2 separate regions of the Homo sapiens genome follow, and region 1 is linked to region 2. A link means that fine-mapping ties the variant in region 2 to the expression of a gene that starts in the linked region. Tissue or cell type: whole blood. Region 2 holds a variant in brackets; the other region holds the start of a gene. All regions are shown on one strand. Distances are from middle to middle.

Region 1 (2,660 bases), 100 kb after region 2:
TGACAGCCGGCCATGAGCAGCATCTTGAATCCCTGACAATCAGAGAGATAAGAGAACAGATTTTGGAGACAGACTTCTATTCAAATCCCAGTTTCATCATCTCAGTTTCCTCATATGCAAAATTGGGATATTAATAATTCTTCCTCAAAGGGCCTTACAAGAATTAAGTGCAGTAATATCTGTGAAGCACTTAGCATAGTGCCTGCCACATGCCGAGACACTAAAGTGAGCTGTCATCAGCAACAACAGCATTAGTTCATTACTGTAATTATCACTGAGAACACTTTATCACCAGAATGCTTATCAAATGGTGACATATATTGTCCAGATGTTATGTTGTGATAGGCCTCAAATAATTGCTCAAGTTACAAATGATAATTTCTAAATTTTTCTGCATTGTAAAGGAGTGAAGAATTAGAAATTCTGGGGAAAAGTCCTAGATGGAGTAAAAAGACTCACTTTGGGAAAAACTTAGAGGAGAGCCTAGAATAAATAAATATTTCGTGGGAAATTTTTCAAGTCAAATTCTGAGCACTGTATAATATGAACAGTATGGATGGTTCCAGAGGTTTCTAGGGACGACTATACAGTTCACAAAGTTTTGGTGTACTAAGGTTTCTTCTGAATCGAGTAAAGGGGCTGAGATCTGTGCTCTGGGGGATGAGAAGCCAAAATAGAGCCAGCTTGTGTTGCCTAAGAGGACAGCTGACAACTGCATTGCATTCTTACCATTGAGGTGGTGGCTTGGTGCAGAAGTCAGACCTCTGTGGCAGGCTGTGGATCATGTGGGAAGCCACACACTGGCCCTGAGACGAGGAATTATTAGGATGGAGGGGAAGCACAAGAGTGCTGGTCAGCCCAGGCACTCCTAAAGCAGGCAGGTGATCATCCCTGTTCCCAGTAATTAGTTCTTCTCTGCCTCCCCTACTCTTGGGCACATTGTCAAATATGTCCCTACTTTGTTTGAAATCTACAGGACTCTATCTCTTTTATCAAAACCTGCACTCAAAACATGATCTGAAGTGACCAGCATAATTTAAATGACCAGTCACATTTTCCTAAGAGGCATTTGCATTTTTAAAAGGGGCTAGTCCATTAAGCAAAATATGAGGGGACTCTCAGAGTGGAACTTCAGGCATCAGCAAGAGGGGAAGATACTATCTTCCTGGGAGTTGACAGTACCTGATAATTGATCTCCTTCCCATCAGATTTCCAAGGGATCAAGGTGCCCCGGTTCTAAACAACCACAGGTAAGGACAGGATAGAGTCCAAGGAGACACACTATCAGGCTGGAAAATTCATTAAGTATTTACATGAAAATTCAGGTTCTCCTCATTGCTCAGGTACGGTCACATGGCTCAGAAAGCACAAGAAGTAGAGCCCCGAGGTCAGATCTGAGAGGCTTCTGAGGGGCCGATGCAGTGACTTCTCTGCTGCAGGTCAGGAGTTCTGGAACTGGGGCGTGGCTGGGGAGGGGTTGCAGGGAAGGGTGGGAGGAAGGAAGAAAAGAACAAGTGATTGGAAGTGCCACAGGATGAGCTCATTGGGATGGGTAGGAAAGAAGAGTTTTCTAACTTCTTAAGAATTTAAGAATTTATGAGAACTCAAGATTTCAGGAAGGGAGGAAGAAGAAACACATTGCATTTCTATCCTTGACTGGGGAACTAGATGATAGGGATGTGAAGGGTGGTTGGTGAGTCATGCCTTTTCGTCTACTCATTGTGGCAGGATGTGAGCTCTGGGGGCAGGCAACCGAACACTGACCTCTCTAGGTCTCATGCCAATGTCTGTCATCAGGAGTGAGCAGGAAAAAGGTCCTTAAGGACATGAGGCCGTGTCTTCCTCAGCTGAGCCTTGCAGGGCTGGCTGGAAGGTGGAGAAGGGATGGGATGGGAGTGGGATGTCAATGGGAGCCTGAAGATGGCGGGGTCATCTGCTGGAGCCTGGGGTTCTATGGGGCTCTCTTGTGCTGTGGAGGGCACAAGTTCTGCAGGCCTTCCTTTCAGTAGTCAGGGCTGGCCTGAGCTGTGAGGTGGCTGTAGATGCGGTAGATGAGACAGTGCCTGGCACTTGGGATACCTGATATTCAGCCTGTCTCCCACTGGTTCTGGTCTGCTATCTTCAGGAACTAGGAGTGGGTGGGAGAAGCAGCAATGTCTCCTAGTACTCAGTGGCATCCACTGGCCACATTCTTTCTCTCTGTTCCCCATCTCATGCCAGTGCATCTCCATCCTTCTGCAGCTGCTGCAGTCAGATCCATCATGTGGCCACTGACAGCCCTTCTGCTCCTGGGTGAGTCCACAGTGAGGCAGCAGAAGAGCTTTGGGTGGTGGAGAATAGGGTGGACCAAGGTATGGGGAGAGGAGGGTGGGTATCCAATCCTCAGTTTCCAAGTGGTTCATTATCTTTTTTTGGAGGGGTGAAGAAGAAGGGGCTTTCTCAGAGCTTGGGAAACCAGGGGCAGAAGAAGAAAAACAGGTTTTGGGACCATTCAGCCTTTCTTGTCGTCAAGAGTCTCTCTCCTCTCATCGCCAATATTCTCCTTCTCCTTCCTCTTCCTTCTTTCCTGTTCTGCAGTTCCAAGCAGTGGGCAAGCTGGTGAGTCTTATAAATTTCTCATCCCAATTTTCTACAGCTTCCACTCCAACCCCCTAAGTGAC
Region 2 (2,852 bases):
ATAAAATTCAAGCAATCATCATCAGGTACAAAGGCTGTGATTTTCTTGCTGTTCTCTCATCTGCCTCACAGCCTCCAACCTGTAACAAGAGGATCAGCTGTGCCAGTGGAGACCACAGCATCTAGCTTATGCTGGATGATCAGCTTGGCCCTGGCACACTTCTCAGTGGCAGAGCTGGGCTATTTGGCTCCAATCCCTACTTTTTCCAGCCCAATTCCCTTTGCATGAGAAGCACCTCCAAAAGGGCTGGTCTTCAGGACTGTGCCCGAATGGGCTTTCTTGTACCATTTACCATGCCACTTCTGATCCTGTCGGTGACAATGGAGCTTCCTGGAGGTAGACAGTCCATGACACTTGCCCATATTGCCAGCTCCACAGGTCTGAGCAAAAGAACAGAGACAAAAATTTAAAATAAAAGAAATGACTCTAGGCCTGGTACGGTGGCTCTTGCCTGTAATCCCAGCACTTTGGGAGTCTGAGGCGGGAGGATCACCTGTGGTCAGGAGTTTGAGACCAGCCTGGCCAATATAGCGAAAGCCCATCTCTGCTAAAAATACAAAAAAATTAGCTGGGCGAGGTGGCAGGCGCCTATAGTCCCAGCTACTCGGGAGGCTGAGGCAGGAGAATGGCGTGAACCTTGCGGGGCGGAGCCTGCAGTGAGCCGAGATCGCGCCACTGCATTCCAACCTGGGCGACAGCGAGACTCTGTCTCAAAAAAAAAAAAAAAAACACAAAAATTAGCCGGGCATGGTGGCCCATGACTGTAATCTTCTCAGCTACTCAGGAGGCTGAGGCAGGAGAATTGCTTGAATGTGGGAGGTGGAGGTTGCAGTGAGCCGAAATCGCACCACTGCACTCCAGCCTGGGCAACAGAGCAAGACTCCATCTCAAAAAAAAAAATTAATTAAAAAAAAATAAATGACTCTAGTTTAAAGATCATTTGGCAAATTTATTTATTTACTTATTTAGTATACATATGATACACATATATGTATTTTACATAAGATATAAAATATGTGTACACATAAACATATATGCATATATAATTTCTGCATATGCATATCTATGTTTGCATGTCTTCTCATTTCACTAAACATCATTGAAAACTTCCACCTGCAACTAAACTGGAGCCCACTGATGACAGAGGATGGCAGGGCAGAAAGAAAGGAGATTCTGTGTGGAGGCTATGGAGAGGCCCTGGGTCTTGGGCAGTATAGAAAATGGCTTTTGTCCAAGTGTTCTTATTGCTCAATTCCCACCTATGAGTGAGAACATGCGGTGTTTGATTTTCTGTCCTTGCGAAAGTTTGTTTAGACTGATGGTTTCCAGCTTCAT[C/T]TATGTCCCTACAAAGGACATGAACTCATCCTTTTTTATGGCTGCATAGTATTCTATAGTGTATATGTGCCACATTTTCTTACTCCAGTCTATCATTGATGGACATTTGGGTTGGTTCCAAGTCTTTGCTATTGTGAATATTTCCGCAATAAACTTACGTGTGCACGGGTGGGGAACATCACACACCGGGACCTGTCGTGGGTGGGGAAGGGGGGAGGGATAACATTAGGAAAAACACCTAATGTAAATGACGAGTTAATGGGTGCAGCACACCAACATGGCACATGTATACATATGTAACAAACCTGCACCTTGTGCACATGTAGCCTAGAACTTGAAGTATATATATATGAATTAAAGAAAAAAAAGGCTTTTTAGACCCAGCACTGACGAGATTCCCTAGGTCGATGGTGGTGGAATTAGGGGTCTCTGTCCTCAGACATTTGGATCTGGATATGTCAGCATGAAAGTCCTTAAGTTGCAGGCATTTTTTAAAAAATATTTTTTATTTCCAAGCTGAATACCATTAATTGGAATGTTACAGGCTTTTTAAGCTCCGTGTTCTGTCTGCATGGCTAATATGCCCGTAGAAACCTTTCAAAACAGCGTGGGTTGAAGACTAATTTTGTAACACAAAACTCACTTACTTAGATATCACATTTTGCTGGACGTGATTGGACCTGAAAGAAAATATTTTTAATGCTCACGACAATAACCTTTTTATGAGTCAGCACTAAACGTGTGCACATGCATACATAAGTTGTCTACATCAGCAAAAAAAGCTTATCGTCGTATTTCTCTGACCAAAATCAACGGAACCCCCGAAATCACAGAGAGCATCCATTTTGGATTCCCCGAAGACCCTTCGTTCCTGCATCCTCTTCTGCTCTCCCTTTCTCAGCCTCTTCTGCTGGAAGCTGAGTCCTGCTCCAGATCTAGGCAAGTGCTAGCGCGGAAAAAAGACCTGCCTCGCTCAGGGCTGTGAGCCGCGCCCTGAAGCACGGAAAGCTAATTGTGTCACTGGTTTCAAATCAACTTCAAATTTTTTGGAGACGTAAGAGTGCTGAGCATTTTTTCTTCAGTGAAGTGACTTGGCAGCCCAGGTCGCCAACGCCCGTTTCTGTAGCGCGATCGGTTAGCGCCTTCGGCTGTTAAACGAAAGGTTGGTGGTTCGTTCCCACCCCGGGACAGAAGTCCCACTTTTGTGAACCTTGAGTTTTTGAAACTTTCACTGAAAAAAACCGCGTGCGATGCTATCCGCCGGGAGCGCTGGAGCCTTGGCTCTCAAAACCAGCCGCGGTGCTAACCGCCGGGATCCCTGGCAGCTGACCTCCGCGTTGTGTGGTTCCCAATGTCCTCTTCTGCCTTAGTGCTGTACGGGTAATTTTGAGGTATTTGGTTTTTCCGACTAGGGTTGTAGTGATAACTCTTAGCTGCTTAACCACTGCAATTACGTTATGGAAACTGACACTTTAAGAAAATTTACTGACCAAAGGAAGTAAGTACTAATAATACCA

Evidence for each region. PIP is the estimated chance that this variant, and not a neighbour inherited with it, causes the effect.
Region 1: it holds the start of FCRLB, and the variant in region 2 is the best candidate, but not a certain one, in a credible set for the expression of FCRLB in whole blood (INTERVAL, PIP 0.87).

What each region holds. Positions count from the first base shown.
Region 1 is chr1:161,720,412-161,723,071 of GRCh38, forward strand. It overlaps FCRLB (Fc receptor like B), which reads left to right and starts at 1,133. Exons shown (of 8, transcript NM_001002901.4): 1 at 1,133-1,250; 2 at 1,344-1,439; 3 at 2,242-2,292; 4 at 2,578-2,598. The coding sequence starts at 2,262. RefSeq lists enhancers at 1,915-2,014, 2,095-2,194.
Region 2 is chr1:161,619,224-161,622,075 of GRCh38, forward strand. It overlaps the pseudogene RPS23P9. Among named protein-coding and RNA genes, the nearest start is that of TRL-CAA6-1, 8.6 kb to the left of the region's middle. The variant C/T (reference allele first, on the strand shown) is at 1,336.